Homo sapiens: one gene and its partners. The protein of the gene in region 1 purifies or fractionates together with the protein of each later gene. This does not show direct contact. Each region holds a gene or a part of one and is shown in the gene's direction. Other genes may lie near its edges.

Evidence for each region.
Region 2: the proteins of EIF2AK2 (region 1) and NOC3L purify together in Homo sapiens (affinity purification with mass spectrometry; 2 studies listed by BioGRID and IntAct, with this or other methods). This does not show direct contact.
Region 3: the proteins of EIF2AK2 (region 1) and NOP53 purify together in Homo sapiens (affinity purification with mass spectrometry; 2 studies listed by BioGRID and IntAct, with this or other methods). This does not show direct contact.
Region 4: the proteins of EIF2AK2 (region 1) and HNRNPUL2 purify together in Homo sapiens (affinity purification with mass spectrometry; one large-scale study listed by BioGRID and IntAct). This does not show direct contact.
Region 5: the proteins of EIF2AK2 (region 1) and LYAR purify together in Homo sapiens (affinity purification with mass spectrometry; 2 studies listed by BioGRID and IntAct, with this or other methods). This does not show direct contact.
Region 6: the proteins of EIF2AK2 (region 1) and DDX24 purify together in Homo sapiens (affinity purification with mass spectrometry; one large-scale study listed by BioGRID and IntAct). This does not show direct contact.
Region 7: the proteins of EIF2AK2 (region 1) and ADAR purify together in Homo sapiens (affinity purification with mass spectrometry; 3 studies listed by BioGRID and IntAct, with this or other methods). This does not show direct contact.

The regions. Positions count from the first base shown.
Region 1 is NC_000002.12:37,132,981-37,136,480, reverse strand, and holds part of EIF2AK2 (interferon-induced, double-stranded RNA-activated protein kinase), read left to right. Parts: intron 1-934; coding exon 935-997; intron 998-3,500.
Region 2 is NC_000010.11:94,338,940-94,342,439, reverse strand, and holds part of NOC3L (nucleolar complex protein 3 homolog), read left to right. Parts: intron 1-694; coding exon 695-767; intron 768-1,943; coding exon 1,944-2,007; exon of another isoform or gene 2,008-2,012; intron 2,013-2,092; coding exon 2,093-2,164; intron 2,165-2,519; coding exon 2,520-2,701; intron 2,702-3,500. UniProt on the Homo sapiens protein: May be required for adipogenesis.
Region 3 is NC_000019.10:47,752,046-47,755,545, forward strand, and holds part of NOP53 (ribosome biogenesis protein NOP53), read left to right. Parts: intron 1-466; coding exon 467-562; intron 563-2,481; coding exon 2,482-2,586; intron 2,587-2,663; coding exon 2,664-2,846; intron 2,847-3,302; coding exon 3,303-3,478; intron 3,479-3,500. UniProt on the Homo sapiens protein: Nucleolar protein which is involved in the integration of the 5S RNP into the ribosomal large subunit during ribosome biogenesis. In ribosome biogenesis, may also play a role in rRNA transcription.
Region 4 is NC_000011.10:62,712,130-62,714,793, reverse strand, and holds the end of HNRNPUL2 (heterogeneous nuclear ribonucleoprotein U-like protein 2), read left to right. Parts: 3' UTR 1-2,164; downstream 2,165-2,664.
Region 5 is NC_000004.12:4,283,655-4,287,154, reverse strand, and holds part of LYAR (cell growth-regulating nucleolar protein), read left to right. Parts: intron 1-582; 5' UTR 583-636; intron 637-3,359; 5' UTR 3,360-3,412; coding exon 3,413-3,500. UniProt on the Homo sapiens protein: Plays a role in the maintenance of the appropriate processing of 47S/45S pre-rRNA to 32S/30S pre-rRNAs and their subsequent processing to produce 18S and 28S rRNAs. Also acts at the level of transcription regulation.
Region 6 is NC_000014.9:94,057,203-94,060,702, reverse strand, and holds part of DDX24 (ATP-dependent RNA helicase DDX24), read left to right. Parts: intron 1-89; coding exon 90-605; intron 606-2,805; coding exon 2,806-2,881; intron 2,882-3,500. UniProt on the Homo sapiens protein: ATP-dependent RNA helicase that plays a role in various aspects of RNA metabolism including pre-mRNA splicing and is thereby involved in different biological processes such as cell cycle regulation or innate immunity.
Region 7 is NC_000001.11:154,598,187-154,601,686, reverse strand, and holds part of ADAR (double-stranded RNA-specific adenosine deaminase), read left to right. Parts: coding exon 1-646; intron 647-3,101; coding exon 3,102-3,285; intron 3,286-3,500. UniProt on the Homo sapiens protein: Catalyzes the hydrolytic deamination of adenosine to inosine in double-stranded RNA (dsRNA) referred to as A-to-I RNA editing.

The DNA.
Region 1 (3,500 bases):
TCTTGATGTGGATGCTTGGATGGAGAGAAGAGAGTTCTGCACATGAGGTGCCCTCAGCCACGATTACTGTGGCAGTCAGGAGGGATGAGGAGAATGTGTGAGAAAGACTGTAAAGGAAGAGTGGACATGACTTGAGGGAATAGGTTCCCCGTAGCTGAGTGAAAGCATGAAGGAGAGGTAAAGGAGAAAGGATTTGAAGATTGCTTCACTTTGAACAGGATGCAGTCAAGAACCATGGCACTAATGGTGTTAAGGAAGTTAAGGAGTTAAGGGCTTAGAGAGAAGACAGCAGTTTGGATATGTTTAGTTTTAGGTGGTATTTAAACTTCCATTTGCAGGTGGCTTATCATCAGTAAGGAATAACAGCTAGGATGAGGGTGTAAGGAGATGTACTTCCTGAGGTTTTGAGTCTGGAGGAGGAAAAGGAGAGGTTAGTGACGCATCAACAATGAGCACTCTAAGGTGGAAAAAGGAACCAGAGGAGGGATGAAAAAGTATTAGAGGCCAGAGGAGAACGGTAAGTATATAGTTTTATAAAGAAAAAAGTTGGCTGGGTGCTGTGGCTTGCGCCTGTGATCCCCAGCACTTTGGGAGGCCAAGGTGGGAGGATGGCTTGGGTCCAGGAGTTCGAGACCAGACTGGGTAACATGAAGAGACCCTGTCTCTACTAAAAATAAAAAGAATTAGCCAGGTATGGTGGCACATGCCTGTAATCCCAGCTACCTGGGAGGCTGAGGTGGGAGGATCTCCTCTGAGCCCAGAATTTCAAAGTTGTAGTGAGCTATGATCACACCACTGCACTCCAGGCTGGGAGATGGGGTGAGACCTTGCCTCTGAAGAAAAAAAAAGAAAGAAAAAGGTTAACATTAACACTAAATAAGTTATATTTGATTTCAATTTTATTTGAGTTTTACATTCAACTCTTAATTTTTAGATCTTTGGCACCCAGATTTGACCTTCCTGACATGAAAGAAACAAAGTATACTGTGGACAAGAGGTAAGATTTTAAGTGCTGAAGAAAGAAGAAGGGGTAATGCTGTCGGTGGATGTTTTTGGTAGTTGTCTGTGAAATGGCCATGATCCTGTCAGTTAAAAATATTTGAATAAGATTAACTACGCAGGGTAAGAACAATAGTCTTAGGCTTATCATTAAGAGGGGGCCCAGGAATGGGATGACCCATATTATGATTTTGTTCCCAAACCAAGAATCTAGTTGGTTGTTTTGATACTCCCTTAGCTTTTTAGCCCTTTCTTTAAGTTTTTCATCAGCGTTTCTTACTAGGCCCAATTGGTTGAGATAAAAGCAACATTCCTCACCCAATGAGAGGCAGAGGTCCCTTTTTTCAGCCATTATTAGATCTAGTCCCCATCTGTTTTGGAGGACTACTCCAGCCGAGGAGTCTAGTTTGTCTTGGACTCTTATAATGCTTCAGGCTATATCTTCTAAAGAACCCTGTAATTCTGTGGAAAGAGCTTTAAAGTATGTTAAGGGAGTGGCCAATCTGCCTGCTCCCAATCCAAGTCTGGAGGTTATATCCAAGGCAGCCATTAAAGGAATGACGTGGATGGCCCTCCTCTTCCTAACGTATTGGATGGATGGAATGGGCAAAGGTTGGCTAGGAGGAATTAGTCCAATGGAGGGAGAAAGATAAACTAGGGTACAGGTTCCAGTCCAGTTAGTGGGGAGACAAAGATATGTGTTGGTGCCACTCACACAAAAAATAAGCCTTTGTCATAAATACAGTTGGAGATACAGAAAGAAAACAAGTGAATTAAAGATGGGTGTTTTTTCTTTCCTATGGTTCATTACTCCAGGTGGTCAAGGAGGAGGTCAAGGAGACACCCACTATAGTAGCGATATAGGAAGAGTTATTTTTTACACATTTAATACGATTTGATGTTGCACCATTGCATTGATGTTGAGCCATGGATAAAGGTGGGCGCTAGGGGCAGCACAAATTAGGCCAGAGGCATTGGTTGAGGGAGAGGCTGCAAAACGAACAGGTTGCAGAAATGCTCCATTCGTTTCAGGTGATACTTGGTAGTCAACTCGGTTAGTTTGATGGTCAGCAGGGTGTTTAACAATGATAATGCGGTTGCATTGGTTAGGTTTAAGGATCTTACACGGAAATTTCCCTCAGAGGCTGAAAAGCAAAGTGAGGCTTGTTGTAAAAGTGGGGTGTGTTTAATTATGGGCCCTTCAATGGGAGGGCCTTGTGGCTTAAGGCGTTGTAGGGAGTTGTAATAGGTTTGAAATAATGTGTTGGCCTGATTGACCTTGGAAGTGGGATAATCGCCAACCAGACTGTCAGCTCTTTCAAAAAAGGAAGCTCCTTTTTGGAGTTTATAGATTAGGGTTACGTTTTCTGTTAAAAGGTCATGAAGGGGTGTAGGAAGGGATGTATAAGCTGAAGAAGACAGCGATAAACACATCCAGCATTCTGGAGCAAAGGAAGAGTTAGCTTGCAGCAAGAGGGGTTGTGTAAGGTTTATAGAACGTTCTAGTTTGATAGCAGTGAGGAGTGGTTGTATCGGTGAGGTTGATGTGATTAGGGAATTTAGATAGAAAGAAACAACAAAAGGAGGAAAAAGTTTGGGTAGGAATAAAGTCCTGGAAGGTTCCTTGAAGCCATAAATCCCGTGGAATAGTAAGGAGCTGATCAGGATGTATAATGAGAGTTTCATAAGGATACCACTGAAGGTCTGTAACAAGGCTAGTTAGGAAGCAATGAAAGTTTGGGAGAGAAAGAGACATAGCTGCTTAGGTGAATTTCTCTTCCTTTTCCTCCGGCATTCATGTGAGATGAAGGGAAGTGGATCCTGTGGAGACACAAGAGAGGCTGAAGGTGGTTTAGATTTGATTGTTTGGATGTGTAGTGAAGGGAAGTCTGTGTTCTTGAGAGAAGTATAATGAAACCAGCTGGGGAGTCCCTGGAGCTTTGCTGCTGTGGGTGTAGTGAGGAAGATCTGGTAAGGCCCCTTCCATTTTGGTGTGAGGGGGGAATTGGGGGTAGGGCTGGGACCTTTTACCAGAACCCAGTTTCCTGACTGTAGGAAGGGATTAAAGGAGTTGTATTTTGTCAGCATATTCCCAAATGAAATGGCAGATGATATGCAGAAGAGGAGAAATGAGAGGGGTTGTTAGAGGTGGGGCTTGACCCTGAGGTGGAACAAAAGGAGCATGAGTTCAAATACTTATGCTCAAAACTCCCATACATGAGTTCAAAGGGGATGAGCATTAAAGGTTTACGTGAGAGTGCCCGAATTTTTAGGAGGGCCAAAGCTAGAAGTGTAACCCAGTCTTTATGTGTTTGGAGTGAGTACCTGGTGCGGGTGATTTTTAGAATGCCATTCATTTTTTCAACCTTTCCTGAAGACTGGGGTTGATAGGGGATGTGTAGCTTCCAGGTGATTCGTAGGGCTTGTGCAAGTGTTTGAGTAATTTGAGAAATGAATTCAGGACCATTATCAGATTGAAAAGAAGGAGGCACCCTGAACCT
Region 2 (3,500 bases), on another chromosome or scaffold:
ATGTCACTCATAAGGTCTTTTATTCTTCTAAGATTTACATAGATCAAAGACTTCTTGCTAATATTGAAGAGATGTCCTGACTTTAACCTACTTCAGTGTCTACTATAGTATATGGAGTAACTCTCAAATTTAGCAGCTCATATGATTCTTCTTTAACCCTATTGGGTGGTCTCAGTTATTTCTACAAATAGAGGCCCAGGACAGTGAAGTGAGTTACCTAGGATCACGCAGGTAATTAAGAGCAGAGCCTGAACTAGATACTGGGGTCCAGTATTCTTTCCATTTTATCCTTAAAGCTGTCATAAGGTCCATATTCTTGTAAGTAGCAGAATCTTTCCTTGTCTCTCTTCCCACCACCTGTTTTCTTAGAAGCCGATCCTGCCGGATACCTCCTAAACTTTCCTCAGGAAGTTGTTTGCTTCTAGTAATTTCTTTCTCAGTGCAGAAGGATTTTTGAAATATTTTTGGTTTGTTCAGTGCCTTATATATTTCTACTGAGTTTAGTGTTCAATGGTGTATGAATTGTTGAAGAGGCCAATCTGAATTAATGAAAAGTATCAATAATTGCCATGTCTTTCATAGCTAACATTTCGAAATAAAGAATATTAAAAATACAGTTTTAAAGTCAAGCTTAATTTCTACCAGCTTTATTTCTGCTTTTAGTTCACTGATTAACTGTTTTGTTTGATTCCAGGTTTGCTCACCTTATAAATGTGGAATTTTTTGATGATCTGTTAGTAGTTCTTCATACTCTCATTGAGTCTGGTGTAAGTAATAATAAATTATTTTTTAAAAGATATAAATGGTAATTACTATTTTAAAAATTTTTCAGGTTTATTGAGATATATTTTGTATACAGTAAAACCCCTTTTAGATGTACAGTTTATGAATTTTGACAAAGGCCTATGATCATATGATTACCACCACAGTCAAGATGTAGAACGTTTTCAACCATTGGAGAGTTTTAAGCAGGAGGGTTGTCTGACCTGTTTTCTTTTTTTTTTTTTTAAATTGATGCATAATAGATGTACATGGTTTCAGGGTATATGTGATAATTAAATATATTCATATAATATAGTTTGTAAATATTTTACTTGGGATATCAGTCACCTTAAATATGTGTCTTTATGTGACAACCATTCAAATTCTTCCCTCCTAGCTATTTTGAAATAGATAATAGATTATTGTAAACTATAGTCACCCTGTAAATCTGCCTCATACTAGGTTATCTTAAAGATAACCTTTATAGGTCTTTTTTTTCTTTTTTGAGATAGGGTCTCACTCAGTTGCCCAGGCCGGAGTGCAGTGGTGCAATCACAGCTCACTGCAGCCTTGACCTTCCAGGGCTCAGGTGATCCTCCCACTTTAGCCTTTTGAGTAGCTGGGACTACAGATGTGGGGCACCATACCTGGCTAATTTTTCTATTTTTTTGTAGAAATTTTTTTTTTTTTTTTTTTTGAGAGGGAGTCTTGCTCTGTCACCCAGGCTGGAGTGCAGTGGCGTGATCTCGGCTCACTGCAAGCTCCGCCTCCCGGGTTCACACCATTCTCCTGCCTCAGCCTCCCGAGTAGCTGGGACTACAGGCGCCCACCACCATGCCCGGTTAATTTTTTGTATTTTTAGTAGAGACAGGGTTTCACCGTGTTAGCCAGGATGGTCTTGATCTCCTGACCTCGTGATCTGCCCGCCTCGGCCTCCTGAAGTGCTGGGATTGCAGGCGTGAGCCACCGCGCCCGGCCCTGAGAGATGGGTTTTTGCCATGTTGCCCAAGCTGGTCTTGAACTCCTGGGCTCAAATGATCTGCCTGCCTCAGCCTCCCAAATTGCTGGGATTACAGGCTTGAGTCTTTGCTCCTGGCCTTAAAGTTCTTTTTTAAAGCTATAAATGGCAATTACCATTCTTAATATTCCATCCCCCTCACCCCCCCCTTTTTTTTTTAAAGGACCTAAGCTATCAAGAAAGTCTTCACTGTGTCCAGACTGCTTTTCATATTCTTTCTGGACAAGGTATGATATTTTCTTAATCAAGTTTTGTTTGCCTTACCTTTGAATGCTATAACATACCTAATTGGTGTTTGTTGTCATTTCAAAGGTGATGTTCTGAATATTGATCCATTGAAATTCTACACACATCTCTACAAAACACTGTTCAAATTACATGCAGGTATGTATGTTTAGATAATGTTTCTTTTATATGTATTTATGTTTTAAGAATATGTTATGACCCATCATTGTAGACAAATGAGAAATAGGAACAGGTACATAAAATGGTGACTTTCCAGTGCCATGCATCTGTATTTAATCTTATGTAAGACTTGGAGAAAGAGCTTCTGGAATTGACTGGAGATGCAGTAAGTATAGCCCGCTGTATCTCCTTAGCAGTATAGCACTACCTCATTGATTAGAGAAATGGTTTGGGACAGGTACAAAAGTTTATCTTGGGTTTATCTGAAGTTCAGTCCAGTTGCGTAATGAAAAAGTAATGAGAACAGCTCTGAAGAATATGTCTGCTGTTTTAGGTGCTACCAATGAAGGTGTTGAGATTGTACTCCAGTGCCTTGATGTCATGCTAACTAAGCGCAGAAAGCAAGTTTCTCAGCAGCGAGCTCTTGCCTTCATCAAACGCCTTTGTACCCTTGCTCTTCATGTTCTTCCAAATTCAAGTATTGGCATTTTAGCAACTACCAGAATATTAATGCATGTAAGTAGTGATACAAATGAACAGAGCTAAGTTCTTATAATGCAATGATTTTTTTTGTTTGAGGCATGTCTTTTCCCCCCTTTTATATTATTTCAATTACAGAAGTAATTCACACTTGTAACAAAATCAGGTGACAAAAGAGGTATATAAAATTGAAAAAAAGCATTTTATACCTATTGACACTTCTCAGTGTCATTAGGTGGGTATCCATTTACCATTTGGTGGGTATTTTTCCAGCAGCCTTTTAAAGTTCATATATAAACACATACACATAGAAACAACTCAACTTTGTATTTTAATGGAAAGAGGATTATGCTATATATTCTACCACTTTTTTAACCTTAGCATTTAATCATGGTAAACACATTATAATGTCACTACTCTCTTTATGTAAGGTTTATTTAATTCTTTGCTTAACAAACACCATAGTTCTGACTATGTGCCTTCCAGTTATAAATGCCTTACAAAAATTTAATTTTCATAACTCTGAGGTAGCTACTATTCTTGTTCCTATTGTACATGTGGGAAAACTGAGGTCCAGAGAGGTTAAGTGTCTTGGCTTGAGTAGCAGTGCCAGTCAGTGGTAGAAGTGATATTCAAATGTAGGCAGTCTGGTTTTTCTGCTTCTTTCTATTTCTCTTGATATAGGTTATTTCTTTTTTTGCTATTACAAATGATGCTATAGTGAATATCTTTATGTATTTATCTGATGTAATTATTTCTATCAGATTTCTAAAAGTGTGATTGCAAGGTGAGAAGCATATTTTTTTCTTTTGCAAGATAAAATTAATTTTCAAAG
Region 3 (3,500 bases), on another chromosome or scaffold:
GCAGTGAGCCGAGATCATGCCACTGCACTCCAGCCTGGGCAACAAGAGCGAAACTCTGTCTCAAAAAAAAAAATAAAATAAAATACAGATGAAATTGTACTTAGATCATGGGTCGGTGGGGAGAATGTAAAGAGGTAGCACATGAGAAGGTGGAGCCCGTGCTGGCAAGTGGCAGAAGTGTCACGGGTTTGAGTTTGGATTTGCAGCCTCCTTCTTGAGCTGCTGGACCCCAAGTGTTAGAGCCCAGGTGCTTACAATCTCCGGGGCTCAGCCTCGTGGGTAGCAGAGGATAGGCTGCTATCCTTTTTCTGAGATGGAGTCTTGCTCTGGAGTCACCTGAATGCCCCTTGAGCTCTTCCCACACCCAACCACTGGCAAGGCCTGGAGCATCTGCCCCATGGCTGTGTCCTGGGTCACCCGCAGCCCCAACGCACGGCCTTACCCTGCCTCGGCCTTTTCTCCACAGCGGCCAGCACGCCTGCACACCAAGCCGTCCCAGGCACCCGCCGTGGAGGTGGCGCCTGCCGGAGCTTCCTACAATCCATCCTTTGAAGACCACCAGGTACACTGCCCCGTCCAGGCCTCCCTCCTCAGTGGGCTCTGCCTCTTGGTCAGGCCTTCACTAGCTTCCTCCCTGTGCTGGGAACTCCAATGACCCAGACAGCCCTGGGCCTGTCCGCAACGGGGCTCACGGTCCAGTGCAAGAGACCTGTTCCCAGACAGTGATGGGCAGAGTGGTTGGGGCTGGGAGCCCAGACGGGGCACCTGGCCCAGCCTGGGGGGTCAGGAAGGGCTCCCGGGAGGAGGGGTCGCCTGAGCCGAGGCAGAGGCTGAGGGAGGGGTTTGCAGTGGGAGGAGGGGAGTGGGTTTTCCAGGTGGTGGGAACAGCACTGCAAAGGCACAGAGTTGAGAGAGACCGTGGCGCCTTCCAGGAAGCCTGTGGGGCAGAGATGAAAAAGGCTGTGGTGACACGGTGGCACACTGGCAGCCAAGTGACAGTTATATATGGGCGAGGCTAGCTCAGCGATGGGAAAGTCTAGCTGGAGCCACTGTGCATTTAGCGGGCATCTGTTGAGCACAGATGCTGTGGACAAAGGGGACAAAAACCCCTCCCTTGGCCGGGTGCGGTGCCTCACACCTGTAATCCCAGCACTTTGGGAGGCTGAGGCGGGCAGATCATTGGAGGTCAGGAGTTGGAGACCAGCCTGACCAACATGGTGAAACCCTGTCTCTACTAAATACAGAAAATTAGCAGGGCATGGCAGCACGCATCTGTGGTCCCAACTGCTTGGGAGGCTGAGGTGGGAGGATTGCTTGAGCCCAGGAGGTCCAGGCTGCAGTGAGCTATGATCGCACCACGGCACTGCAGCCTGTGTAACAGAGCGAGACTCAAAAAACAAGCACAACCCTCCCTCAAGGAACAGCCCTTCTCATGGGGTCACGTGACTGGAGAGATGCTGAGATGTTTGCGGTAGATGCAGGACCGCTTGTCCGAATCGTTTTCAGCATTCATAAGAAGGAGATAGCTAGCCAGGAACAGAGGCAGCTTCCTCATCTGGTAGAGAAAAGTGTCTGCGGAAAAAAGCAACAGTGTGCTCATGGTTGAAAGCGTGAGGGTGCCGCTCACTGCCATCTGTTCCTGGACCAGATGTGGGAGGGGGCGTGGAGATCAGACATTCACTTTTAGATTTGTACAGAACTACTTCGTAGAGATAAAATTCACTTAACCATACGGTCAGCCTAGTTAGAGTATGTGATTCAGTGGCTTTTAGTGACCATTGTGTAACCATCCCCGCAGTCAATTTTAGAACATTTTCACTGTCCGTAAAGGAAACCTCACACATGTCAGCCATCACCCCCGCAATTCCCTGTCTCGTGTGGTCTTGGGCTGCCAGGCTTCCTGTCTCAGGGACCAGCCCACCCTGACCAATTCACATAGATGAAACTGTGGGCCGGGCATGGTGGCTCACACCTGTAATCCCAGCACTTTGGGAGGCCGAGGTAGGTGGACCACCTGAGGTCAGGAGTTCAAGACCAGCCTGACCAACATGGAGAAACCCCATCTCTACTAAAGTTACAGAATTAGCCGGGTATGGTGGCACATGCCTGTAATAGTAGCTACTCGGGAGGCTGAGGCAGGAGAATCGCTTGAACCCAGGAGGCGGGGGTTGTGGTGAGCTGAGATCACACCATTGCACTCCAGTCTGGGCAACAAGACAGAAACTCTATCTCAAAAAAAAAATGTGAAGCGTGCAGGTCAGACTGCCTTCACAGACGTGCAGAGCAGGTGTGAGGGCGAGGGTTTGAGGTGCCCTCTGGCTCTGTGCAGGGTGGGTGTGCTGGTAGACGGGGTGTGGGGAGGAAAGCCTGGGCCGGGGCGGGATCCACGGGCACTGGATGAGGGACAGATGGGAGGTAAGAGGGTCTAGTCTCAGTGTCCCAGGAGGGGTTCAGGGACCCATCCTCACTCCCGCCCCTCAGACCCTGCTCTCAGCGGCCCACGAGGTGGAGTTGCAGCGGCAGAAGGAGGCGGAGAAGCTGGAGCGGCAGCTGGCCCTGCCCGCCACGGAGCAGGCCGCCACCCAGGTGAGCCCCGCACCTGCCCACTCCCTCCCCTCCCCGGGCCTCCTACCCACCCCTGACACTGCACCCCGCCTCCCCAGGAGTCCACATTCCAGGAGCTGTGCGAGGGGCTGCTGGAGGAGTCGGATGGTGAGGGGGAGCCAGGCCAGGGCGAGGGGCCGGAGGCTGGGGATGCCGAGGTCTGTCCCACGCCCGCCCGCCTGGCCACCACAGAGAAGAAGACGGAGCAGCAGCGGCGGCGGGAGAAGGCTGTGCACAGGCTGGTGAGCGCCTGGGCCAGCGGGGCCTGCCTCTGATGCCTCGCCCCCTTCCTTCCTTCCTCCCACCATGGGCTGCCCTGGGTGCTGCGGGCAGCCTGCACACCCCAAGCCCCGCATGTGGCCTGTGGTTTGGGCTGTTTGGGATCCTCACAGCTGAGACTCATTTCCCAGCCTCTTCCAGGCAGGGCTCGGGCTGGGGTGGGACAGGGTCCCTGGCGCTTCTGTTTGAGGGGCGGGGTGGGGGGAGGTTTCTGCACCGCAGACCAGGGGAGATGGATGACAAAAGGGGCTTCAGCAAACAGCTGCTGGGAAGGCACTGGAGGGGCCGCTGATGTGACGGGGTTAGGAAGGGCCTCCGGGGACAGGCAGGTTTGTGCAGGGAAGGCTCCCTGTGTAGAGAGAAGGTCTCCCTGTGTGGGCAGCACCGGCCTGAGCCCTGACCCTCCCCCGTCTCCACAGCGGGTACAGCAGGCCGCGTTGCGGGCCGCCCGGCTCCGGCACCAGGAGCTGTTCCGGCTGCGCGGGATCAAGGCCCAGGTGGCCCTGAGGCTGGCGGAGCTGGCGCGGCGGCAGAGGCGGCGGCAGGCGCGGCGGGAGGCTGAGGCTGACAAGCCCCGAAGGCTGGGGCGGCTCAAGTGAGAACCAGGCCGGGGGTTC
Region 4 (2,664 bases), on another chromosome or scaffold:
AGTGAAAATAAACGATTGGCTCTTATCAATCACTTGCACCAACTAACCGTTTGTATTTTCTTTACCGACCTTTCCCTTTTGGGATATGTGGTCTGGTGGGCTGGGAGGCTTACAGTGTCCCAACTCTCCATTTTCCTGTGCCTTTGTGCTGTTTGGCTGAGGCATGGAGACTGCCAGTGGGTGGTTCTATTTTACAGGATTCCCAGGCCAAGAAAGCCTGGGGACTGTCCTTGATGGCAGAGCAGAATAGCCTGCCCCTTCTATAGACCCATTGATTAATTCCTGTAAAATCTTGGGGAGAATGGGATTGCAGCCCTCAGCCTAAAGATTGTGATTTGCCAGTCTCTAGTCTCTGTCTTCCAAGGTTGAGAGAGGTGGGAGGTCTCTGAAATCATCCCTGTTAGAGTGTCTGTCCTCTTACAGTGCGAGAGAAGGAACGTTTCTCAGGGTTTCAGCTCACACGAAAACACAGCAGGATTCTTTTCACTGCAGCGGGATATGTATATAGGTGAATCCTGTGGTGTGGGCTCACAGGCCCAGGTGCTGAGAATAGCAACTAGCAACTATTTTCTACAGTGTGGAGGGCTCGTGCCCTGCTGGTTTTTTTGATACACAGGTAGAGAATGAATAGAAGAGGGGAGGGTGGTGGGGGGGGGTGGGAGGCAGCTCAGTGGGGCTGCTGAACCTTGGGAAGAGTGTGAGTGTGAACGTGTGTAAATGTGCGTGTGAAAGGGAGCACCCCTTCCCGACTTCTAGAAACAAAATTCCTTTTGGGGCGCTTTCCCTGTGTGTCCCCAGAGAGGCCTCTAGCCAGGAGCCTTCAGTTGGGATAGTTTCATTTGTGACTTTACCAATACCCTCCCAGTTCTTGATAGACAGCTGTAGGTTGCTGGGTTCAAGAATATGGGTGGGATATGGAATGCTCTTTCAATGTCTAGCTTCAGTTTTCATTCATCCTCCTGCTCAGCACTGTCAGCCAAGAGCTTACTCAGCAGACACCACATACTGCAGCAGTTCCTAGTGAGAAAATCTGTGCCACTAGAAAATGCTTCACTTCCATTTCCTCACCTGGGCAGTTCTCTGTTTAAAATTGTGGGCTGATTTGGTCTTCCTCTCCTCCTCCCACTGTTACTGCCCTGCAGCCCTTGTTCAGGTGTACAGACCCTTATTCTGGCCTCTAGTGTCCTTGTCTGTCATGACACACCCTTCCGCCCAAATACCTCTGACCCCAAGGCTGGAATGGGGCTGGTAGGAGATAAGTTTGCTTACTCATAGTCATGTCCTTTCTCTTGGCACCTGCTTCCCTGCGGTGTCCTCAAATGGATTTCTGTGTGGCAGTGGAGTGATTGCATGAATTTTTCTGTAACACATTAACTTTGTATTATTATTAAGGGAGTTTGAGAAAGCTTTGCTTATAATGTCAAGGCAAGGAGGTAAAAACTGGAGCCCAAAGAAATTCCCTTAGGGCAAGATTATGTTATAATAGAAAATTGAATTTCCTGAGGCAGTGGCTGCCACCCCTTTTCAGATGTTTAGTCCTGCAAATAGCATCTTTCTTGTAGTCTGTGACATGGATGGGGATGCTAGGGCCCTTAGGGGCAAGGGGACTAAACTAAATCAAGTTGAGTTTTTTTCCAGCAGGGGTTAGGGGAGGTACTCGCTGTTGATATTTGACACTAGAAAGTAATCTTTTTTACAAAACTGTTTTTCTAGGTGGGTGGAAAGTGAAACTGCCACATCCTTGTTGGTTTAGTCCAAGAGATCATTTGCAACAACAGTAGATGTCCGGGTTTTGTTTCTGTCTTTTTATTATGAAAAACTATGTTAAGGGGGAAAATGTGGATTATGGTAACCAGAGGAATCCCTAGCCTTGTTTTCCTTAGAAGACTTGTTTAGTGTTTTATCAGACGTCTGTTGTAGTTGTAGACAGGAAAGCTTGTGAGAAAAACACCACATGGAGCCTGTAAATGTTTTTGCACAACCTGTAAAGCATTCTTGGAAGTGGCCAGTAAAAAGGGGTTTTACCATTTAAAAAAAAAATGTAACTGTGTCATTGTTTACATCTGTAACTTTTTCCTCCCCTGTTCTCATTACACCATTCTGGCGAAAATGTAGGCAAAGTAGCTTCCAGTTTTAGAATAAATAACCATTTGGATTGAATTCACCCTATCTCCTGTGGCTGCACTGACTGGGGCGGAGGGTGTCACTGGGTTATTTATTCATTTTTTAATGCCTCTTTCTCAGGTCGCATGGGCTCCAACCAAGGAGGACTCTCCTCTTGCATGGTGGCTGCCGTTCCCTCCCTATTCTACCATGCCTTCACTTGGGAGCCAGCCATGCAGTCAGTTGACATGGGTGGGTAGTTATTAGTCTATTTAGTGCTTGCTTAGGCCAAGAGTCGAGCCATTGAAGTATAGGAAAATAAATTATAACTCACGACCTCTGTATTTGGCCTATGCAAAAACTAGTTGGATGCTTGAAGTTAAATGTACATTGTGGAGCCAAATAAGTATATTCATGAATAATTACTGCTAGGGGGAAAGCCCACTCATTCAACAGAAGTTTGATGGGGGTTATTTTCCAGTGAATCTGGAGAACGAGACGGTAAATTAAATTTACAACAGCGCCATTGCTTTTTTATTTTTTATTTTTATTTTTATTTTT
Region 5 (3,500 bases), on another chromosome or scaffold:
AGGGAAGGAAAAGAGGACTCTATTTAGATCCAGCCCCATGAAAAAACTGCTGTCTTTTTACACTTAGGGCTAGATGTTGAAATCTGTCACATCTGAGCCCGGCAGACTGGGTGTCCTCAAAATCTTAATGCAGTTTTAAGCTTTCATAATTTCAGAAGCATAAATGATCCAAACTTGCCAAAACATCATTTAAAATTTAATTAAGGCCGGGCGCGGTGGCTCACGCCTGTAATCCCAGCACTTTGGGAGGCCGAGGCAGGCGGATCACGAGGTCAGGAGATTGAGACCATCCTGGCTAACACGGTGAAACCCCATCTATCTCTACTAAAAAATACAAAAAATAAGCTGGGCGTGGTGGCGGATGCCTGTAATCCCAGCTACTCGGGAGGCTGAGGCAAGAGAATGGCATGAACCCGGGAGGCGGAGCTTGCAGTGAGCCAAGAATGCACCACTGCACTCCAGCCTGGGCGACAAAGCGAGACTCCTTTCTCAAAAAAAAAAAAAAAAAGTTTAATTAAATTTCCTTCATGCTTATCTAGTCTTGTGGAATTTGAACAATACCGTTTTACTTTTTTGTTTTAGGCAATGTTTGCTGTCTTCCATTGGAGTGACTGAATTTCTACATGACGGCTTTTTGTAAGTTTGTAGTATTTACATTTTTGTTTTAGGCAATGTTTGCTGTCTTCCATTAGAGGGACTGAATTTCCACCTGACGGCTTTTTGTAAGTTTGTAGCATTTACGCTTACGAATATTAAGCCTGCACTAAGACCTGGGACACCCTGTCTGCTGTGCAGTTAGGCTGACTTTGAAGCTTCTGATGGTTTTGAGCTTTTCTTTGAAGCCCAAGCAAGTGTTTATGGCATAAATTACAGGTATTTTCGCCTGGGGCTAGGTTGGGTTTGAGGTGTAATCAAGGTGCTGGACTGTCCTCCAGGCTCTGAATAAAGGAGAGGTAAGCTCCTTACAGACATTAGCTCATTAGCCAAGCAAGTGGACACAGAGCTGTTCCCATTTCATGGCAAGTGTAAAAATCCGGAGGAAGGCAGGAAGAGACAGTTCTGACTTCCTGTGCAATCCACCCATTTGGCCTTAAACAAGTAAAGACCAAATGAAAATGATGTGAGAGTTATTTTTTAGCTGGACATGTAACCAGATTCTAATCACCTTCTGAATTGATATTTAATTACACTGTAGTGTGTAGCCGATCTCCAGAGAGATAGAATGTTTGGCACAGTTACTCTTGAGTATCTTTTTGTCAACATCACTGCTTTCACTGCTTCTTTCAGTCAATATATTTTGTTTCCAGCTTCCTTCCTAGGCCTTTAATTCCTGCTGGGACAGGAATCTCTCAATTCACTCTTAAGCCTTGTCGAAACCTTTCTTCCTCCCATCTCCCACTCCATCCAGAAATAGAATTGTCCTCAGCAACAGAGGTTGGCAAGCTCTAAGCCGTATCTAAGTTTCAGAGACTGTTTTTTGTTGTTGTATCTTATTAGAAAAGTGCTTTAACGTTTTTCAGCAGATAATTTGGCATATCACGGCTGCTTTCACCTTGTGCCTGTGATGACAATCTATTTCTTGGTGACTAATAAGTTATTCCTGCTCTTACACCAAAGTGCACCTCCATGCTCTTTGAGAATGTGATGTTGGCTCTTATTCCAGCCTTTGTTCTCCCTTGTCAGGCAGGATAGCTGCTCTTGTTGCCTGACATGTTGATCATCCCTCTGCCTTTTTTTAGAATGGTAAGCTTTGAGGGAGCTGGGTTGTGGGAAACGTGATTCCAGCTCCCAGGAGCTTGACAATATCACACATCTTTACAGTAAGCAGATGAGAAGATGACAGTTGCTGCAGCACATCGAGGGTAGTCATGTTTTCCTTCCTGAGGATTTGGTGCTAGGTTGTAGCTGACCACATGCTGTCCGTTTACTAACATACACTGATAGTGAGCTGAGGAGCGGGGCCTGGGACCGCGGAATCAGGGGTCTGTGGTTTGTATGTAGCGTAGAAGCTGAGCTGATGTCTGATAGTGTCCCACAGGGCAAGAGGCCTCCACAAGAGACCAGCTGGACCTTTGTGAACCCTGGAGATGCAGCCAGGATGTACATTTCCATTCAAGGCTGAATGGACATGAATAACCTTGGTCGTTGCTTGGGTGTGGCCTCACTGGCAGTGATCCAAAACATGCTGGTGGAGGAGCAACGGTGATTTCATGCATGGGAATTCTCTGCAAACCAAGGGTAGATCATTTGTACTGAAAGCTTGTTGGATGAAGTCCTACCCTGAAGTAAATTGCATCGGTTTACTTGACCCTCACCTTTATTTTCCTAATGAGGAAGAAAGCTCTGGGTTAAACAGTTCTCAGTATTTTTGCTGTAAAACTTATAATGTAAAACAACAATGCTGTTTTAAAATCTAGTGATTAAAAATTATGTAAGTATGGAAAATTACTGTGACTTCTCTAACACTTCTAGACGAATTTGTGTTTTCCTGAGCACGGTAGCATTTCTGTGAAATTTTACAATGATGTTTATGTGCGTGTGCAGACATACTTCTTTTTGGGGCAGTGCTCGGGACACCTGGGTTTGTGAACTCCAGTAATTCAGCACCCAGCAGTTGGGACACCTGGACTTGGTTCCGTTTCTTTCTGACTTGTCTGACAAGCTGCCACATGAAGAAGGCCCCTGTCCATTACAGCTGAGGCGCATGTCCTCATTTTAACCTTTGTAGATATATAGTAATATTGATATGAATGCTTTTAGTGCCATAGAAATTGTGCCCATAGAATTGCCTCTTCTTCACTTTCTAAACTTCACTCAGTTTTCCTCTTGCTGTGTTCTTAGTATATTTGAGGACCTGAAATAGTTTGTAGTGTACACCTAAATTGCAATGCCTTCTATAAGTTTCATATACAGAGAGAGAGTTTAAGGTATTATGGAAAGTAAGATTTAACACCCTCAAAGCTCTTCATCTTGAGAGCCAATCTGCCAGGTTTAAATCCTGGTTCTGTTAACCGTGTATCCTTGGGCAAGTTATGTAATCTCTGTGTCTCAGTTACCTCATATAAATTTTGAACAATAATAGTCCTTCCCTCATAGGGTTACTGCGGGGATTGAATAAGTGAATAAATGTAAAGCCTCTAGAATAGTGCCTGGCACGTGGTAAGGACACAATAAATGTTAGCCATTCTCATTGTTAATGTTAGTTTTACTTATATGAATGGTGGAATTTTATGTAGATTGCTAATCAACTTTGACTCTGTTATTTTCATGTGAAATTATGGTTGAAAAGTTAGGGGCATGAGCCATTTATTGAAATGAGAAGTTTCAGTTTATAATTATAATTGTCTTTTTTTCCTTAGGACAAGACTTAAAACCTGTCTTGGATAGAGAATATTTAGCCATTTACCTAAAAATGGTATTTTTTACATGCAATGCATGTGGTGAATCAGTGAAGAAAATACAAGTGGAAAAGCATGTGTCTGTTTGCAGAAACTGTGAAT
Region 6 (3,500 bases), on another chromosome or scaffold:
TGTGTGTTTAGGATGAGTGTAGGGTGTGCTATAGATGATTCCTCTTAACCCGCTGCTGACCAATGATATGGGTCTCTCTGGATCTGCAGGTGCCTGGTAGTGGATGAGGCTGACCGGATGGTTGAGAAAGGCCATTTTGCTGAGCTCTCACAGCTGCTAGAGATGCTCAATGACTCCCAATACAACCCAAAGAGACAAACGCTTGTTTTTTCTGCCACACTCACCCTGGTGCATCAGGCTCCTGCTCGAATCCTTCATAAGAAGCACACCAAGAAAATGGATAAAACAGCCAAACTTGACCTCCTTATGCAGAAAATTGGCATGAGGGGCAAGCCCAAGGTCATTGACCTCACAAGGAATGAGGCCACGGTGGAGACGCTAACAGAGACCAAGATCCATTGTGAGACTGATGAGAAAGACTTCTACTTGTACTACTTCCTGATGCAGTATCCAGGCCGCAGCTTAGTGTTTGCCAACAGTATCTCCTGCATCAAACGCCTCTCTGGGCTCCTCAAAGTCCTTGATATCATGCCCTTGACCCTGCATGCCTGTATGCACCAGAAGCAGAGGCTCAGAAACCTGGAGCAGTTTGCCCGTCTGGAAGAGTAAGTTAGGACTGTCCCCAGAGGCTTAACCTCTAGTTAGTTACTGGGGTAAAAGGGGTCAGGATGGTGGGGAAATGGTAGAAAAGCCACCTTCTGTCATAGGGGCCTTGTCTCAGTAGTAGGTAGCCTTTTTTTTTTTTTGCACAGCATTTGGCAAGGTTACTGTCATTTAGTGAATTTGGTTGCAGTTAAATGCCATACAGAAACTTCAATACTAATGAATATAGGTGACAATACATAATATTGAATGTATAGACAATAGATTAGGTCCTGTGCTGGCACTTTAGATTCAGAATCACATTCAGTTACTCTCCTAACATCCTTAAGAGGAAGCAGAATAGATTCATGGTTAAGAGCACAGATCCTGGAACCAGAATGCCTGAAATCAAATCCTAGTTCTGTCACTCCTTAGGTGGTCAAGTTATTTAATTTCTCTGTACTTTAATTTTCTCATTATTTGGATAATAATAGAACCCATTCTAGGGTTGTTATGAAGATTGATTGTAAATTCATGCGTGTAAAGTGTTTAGAACAGTCTCTAGCACATAGTATGTATATATTGCTAAATGTTAGCTTTAATAATTTCTAGTCCCTTTACTACTTATTACCATTATCACTATTCTCATTTATAGATGGAAAAATGAGGTCTAGAAAAGCTGATCAGTGTGCCCAAGGTTTCTCTGCCTGGAAGTGGTAGAGCTGGGCCTCAGACAAGCCTGTCGGACCTCAGAGCCCATGCTATTTCTTATTCCTGATGTCTTTGTCCATCTGCCTTTGGACCAGACTGATGCTCAGGGAATGGGGTGCAGATTGTCAAGATGAGGGCCTGGAAAGTTGAGGCAGACTACAAAGTGTCTTTTGCCAGTGTTTTGTCAGGTCATGGGGTAATTAGTTTCTAGAACAAGTGTTTGATTTACTGGTTTTTAAAAATTGGTAAGTAGTATCAGTGGTTTACTGAGATTAGCTTAGAACAAGGCTTGGCAAACTATAGGCCTCGTGCCAAATCTTGCTTGCTGCCCTTTTTTTTTCTAAGATGGGGTCTTGCTATGTTGCCCAGGTTAGACTTGAACTCACGGGCTCAAGCAATCCCACCTTAGCCTCCTAAGTAGCTAGGACTACCAGTGCATGCCATCACACCTGGCTGCTGCCTGTTTTTTTAGTAGACGTTTTACTGGAACACAGCAAGACCCATTTATGTATTGTCAATATCCTCTTTTGCGGCAGAGTTGAATAGTTGCCATAGAGACTGTGTGGTTCACAAAGCTGGAAATGCTCTCTGGCTCTTTACAGAAAAAGTTTGCTGACCTTGATCCAGAGCAGTAGTTTAATGTTTTACAAACTAGGATTTGCATTGCATTTCCCGGCCTCAGCTCAGACATGCAGGGAGTGAGGACCCTGAAGGGCCAGAGTCTTATGTTTTGAAGCACCTCAAGTACTTTTGACTTTCCATGAACCACACATTGAGAAACATCATCCAACACATTTATCAAGTGCTTACCATGAACCAGATGTTGTTCTCTGTGGTGGTAATAACAGCAGTGAGTAATGCAAAGTCCTTGCTCTCATGAAGCTTACATTCTAGTAGAGGGAGATAATAAATTGCAAAGTAAGCCCACAGTCTGCCAAGTGATCCTAAGAAGTAAGTCGAGCAGGGGTTGGAGAAAAGAGATTGGGTATGTGTGGTCAGTCTCTGATGAAGTGAGAATTGAGCAGAGAGCTGAAGAAAGTAATGAAGTGAGTCATATGGACATCTGAGGCAAGACCCTTTAAGGCCTTAAGGAGTAGCAAGTGCAAAGGCTTGGAGGTGAGAGCATGCTTGGTTTGTTTGGGGAAGAGCAAGGAAGTCTGTGTGCCACTGGGAGGAAGTAAATGAGAGGGTGCTAGGAGAGGAGTCACTGACCCAGAATATGTATGGCCTCATTTAACTCACTGAAGGGAGTCTTTATCATTGCAGAGTATGGCATGTTGGTTGGGGTCAATGAGTCCCAAATTTGGATCCAGACTCCACAGCTGAATAGCCATGTAGATAGCTTGGGAAGTTAATCTCTCCGAGCCTCAGTTTTTCTGTAAAAGGGTATACAAGTGATATCTTACAGAGTATTGGTAAGGACTGTAATGTTTAGGATGCTCAGCAGTTGGTAAGAATTTGATTAAAGATAGCTGTTAGTTATTATTAATAAGCTTTCTCTCTCTACCCCAGCTGTGTTCTCTTGGCAACAGATGTGGCAGCTCGGGGTCTGGATATTCCTAAAGTCCAGCATGTCATCCATTACCAGGTAGGGGCATCTGAAAATTTATAGGCATCTGCCTGCACTGAATGGGGAATTTTTAAGGCAAAGGTTGGGGGAGGGAGGAGGAATTGTTGGTTCCAAGGCTCTTGCATCAGAGAATACCACTGGCATCGAGTGCCCACTACTCCCACTTTTGCAACACTGCTGAGATTTGGTCTCCAGAAAACCTTGCTTTGTCTCATGTCAAGTAGCCCTTCTCTCCAAGCTACTTGATATTGTCAGGTTAGAGTCTTAGTTTTTTCTGTGAAATGGGCATAAGTTAAGCATGTAATTGGTTACCCTGATGTAGAGAAGTATTAATAGAAGAGTGTGGTAGTTTAGATCTCTCTGGGCTCAAATCCCAGCTGTGTAACCTTGAACAAGTCATGTAATCTCTCTGTATCTCAGTTTTCTCATGTATTAAATGGCAGTGAGTACCTGCTTCTTAGGGTTCTTACTGAGGTAAAATAAGTTACTAAGTATAAAGAGCTTAAGAAGCCACCTGGCACATTGCAAGCACTTACTCATGTTAACTGCCATTGATAGTAGCAGTAATATTAGTGTGTGCATCTAGTGAATATCAGCATAAAATTTTGGTTAGGAGTATGGGCACCGGAGCCAGACT
Region 7 (3,500 bases), on another chromosome or scaffold:
CTAAAAATATTGGCCTTACCAAGGCCCGAGATATAAATGCTGTGCTAATTGACATGGAAAGGCAGGGGGATGTCTATAGACAAGGGACAACCCCTCCCATATGGCATTTGACAGACAAGAAGCGAGAGAGGATGCAAATCAAGAGAAATACGAACAGTGTTCCTGAAACCGCTCCAGCTGCAATCCCTGAGACCAAAAGAAACGCAGAGTTCCTCACCTGTAATATACCCACATCAAATGCCTCAAATAACATGGTAACCACAGAAAAAGTGGAGAATGGGCAGGAACCTGTCATAAAGTTAGAAAACAGGCAAGAGGCCAGACCAGAACCAGCAAGACTGAAACCACCTGTTCATTACAATGGCCCCTCAAAAGCAGGGTATGTTGACTTTGAAAATGGCCAGTGGGCCACAGATGACATCCCAGATGACTTGAATAGTATCCGCGCAGCACCAGGTGAGTTTCGAGCCATCATGGAGATGCCCTCCTTCTACAGTCATGGCTTGCCACGGTGTTCACCCTACAAGAAACTGACAGAGTGCCAGCTGAAGAACCCCATCAGCGGGCTGTTAGAATATGCCCAGTTCGCTAGTCAAACCTGTGAGTTCAACATGATAGAGCAGAGTGGACCACCCCATGAACCTCGGTAAGAGACCACCCAGGAACTGTACCTAGGGTTGGGGTCAGGTGCTTTTGCTCCTGACGCAGTCTTGGCTGATTTGTGAGCAGTGCTGTTTGGTGGCGCCTATCTTTTCCTCCTTCCCTTCTGCCTTTTAGCTAAATTCCCCTTGATTGGCCCTTTCTCCAGATATTGAGCAGGGAATATAGACCTTGGACCAGCCAGAATCTTGGCTGAACAAGGGGGAGGTTGACTCTGTTGGCTGTAATGAAGCTTCTTTAGAAATGATTGGTTTTGGCCGTACGCGGTGGCTCATGCCTGTAATCCCAGCACTTTTTGAGGCCGAGGCAGGCATATCACGAGGTCAGGAGTTTGAGACCAGCCTGGCCAACATGGTGAAACCCTGTCTCTACTAAAAATACAAAAATTAGCTGGGCGTGGTGGCGTGCACCTGTAGTCCCAGCTACTCAGGAAGCTGAGACAGGAGAATCACTTGAACCCAGGAGGCAGAGGTTGCAGTGAACTGAGATTGCGCCACTGCACTCCAGCCTGGGCCACAGAGCAAGACTCCATCTCAAAAAAAAAAAAGAAAGAAATGATTGGTCTTGGGGGCCGGGGCGGTGGCTTACGACTGTAATCCCAGCACTTTGGGAGGCCAAGGCAGGCAGATCATGAGGTGAGGAATTCGAGACCAGCCTGGCCAACATGGTGAAACCCCATCTCTACTAAAAATACAAAAATTAGCTGGGGGTGGTGGTGCTTGCCTGTAATCCCAGCTACTCGGGAGGCTGAGGCAGGAGAATCACTTGAACCCAGGAGGTGGAGGTTGTAGTGAGCCGAGATTGGCGCCACTGCACTCCAGCCTGGGCGACAGAGTGAGACTCCATCTTGGAAAAAGAAAGAAAAAAGAAAAACATGATTGATCTCCATGCATCAATATCATGCCTGCCTCCTAAGGCAGAGGTAATGAAGACTTAATTCCCTTCTGTAGGCCTTCCCCTCCTCCCTAAGCCGTTTTCTGAGAGAGGTGCAGGAGCAGGTGGGTTGGGGCAGGCTGCATACACAGTGGGGGTGGGTTGTGCTGCTAAGCAGCAGCAGGTCCACAATCCCCCCTCTGCATAGCTCCTGGGGGGAAAGGATGGAGGAGCGTGTGCACGGCTGCCTGCCTGTTGAAGGTGGTGGTTCTAATTTTATAAACCTCCTCTGCACAGATGGGTAGGCTAGCACTTGCTGCCACTCCTGAGCTGTGAAGTCAGCCTTTACCTCACTCAGATAGCTGGTCAGGCCCTGCACTGTAGGTCCTAATAGGCCAGTGGACAGATTGAGGAAAACAGGAGCTTCTGAAGGGCATAACAGAGAGCAAAACCACTGAAGCTGAGTGGCTGCAGCTGCAGCCAGGGAAAGAGCCAGTAGGATGGGGGAGAATTCCACTGACCTTTATGTTTACCTAGCCTGGTTTCTAGGGGTGTAGATTCCTGGCTAGGGCCCTTATTCCTTGTCTTGACTGTCTTCATGACACCAATTTGGCATTTCAGGAGAGCGGTTAAGAAAAGGAGTTGTGTCTGTCCAAAAGCTGGCAAGGCCAGAGCTGGATTGTTTGGGGTAGAGACTGGATGGCCGTCATTCTCTTTTGCCTCCATCCCTCCTCCCCAGAGTTGGAGGAAAGCAGTGGATTTTGTGGTTAGTCATTCTTTGGACTCACACTAAAAGAAACATTGGTGCCATGTTCAAATATATCAGAAGACCTAGGAAATAAGAAATTTGACCTACTTTTCTAAATGAAATCCCAGACTGAGCAAAGAGCTCACCACATTTGAAAGCTTGAACAAAGGGGGCCTAGGCTAAGTCCAGAGGCCTAGAACAAATGCTTTTTTATTTTCTACATAACAAGGGGAAATTCCTTGTTATGTAGAAAATAGCTGGAGACAAATGGTGCTATAGAGTGACTCATAACAAACTACGGTGATATAGGTCTAGGGACAAAAGCAGGCCACTGATAAGTGGCAGATGCCTGATCCCCCTAGGTAGTGGGGAGTGTGAGACTGGGTTATAAGAAGCCTTCACTATCTTTTAGGACCCTCCCTTGAGGAGGCCAGTCTACCACAATTGCTTTAGAATGAAGGTCTTTTGGTTGCTCACAAGACTATAATGGTAATTTTTGGCTCATCATTTTTGTGTGTGTGGGTTTTATCTTAATTCATTGTTAAAGAGATAGTGGGTTTCCCCTGAGCTAGTTTCCTATCATCTGTGCCTATGTTTGCTTCACTGAGCTATGGGGAAAGAGTCACTGGCTGCTTTGTTTACAAAAAGAAAGGACAGGCTGAGCCTTAAGGAGTAGGAAGGAGTTCCTTGGCCTACCCTTCATCTCCACAAGTGAAAAGCCCCTTAGCGTAGCAGAAAATTCCAGGTTGAAGGTCTCTTTGGAGAAGGCAGAAGGAGTGACCTAGACTCCTGTTCACACATCTAATCACTTTCCGTCAAGATTTAAATTCCAGGTTGTCATCAATGGCCGAGAGTTTCCCCCAGCTGAAGCTGGAAGCAAGAAAGTGGCCAAGCAGGATGCAGCTATGAAAGCCATGACAATTCTGCTAGAGGAAGCCAAAGCCAAGGACAGTGGAAAATCAGAAGAATCATCCCACTATTCCACAGAGAAAGAATCAGAGAAGGTAGGTGTCCTCCTGCCATCTGGGAGGATCAGTTCCCTGTCAGTGTCTGGATTGTAACTGACTCCCTTGAGGCAATCCCAGCCTAAACAACTGACACCATCTCGGAGTCAGCTTCCCACTCTTCCCTCTACCCTATCTCGCCAGCCCACCTTTCCTCCTCTCATACCCAGCTCCTCTGTCTGCTCCTGTCCCAACATAATTGGATTTACAGAATT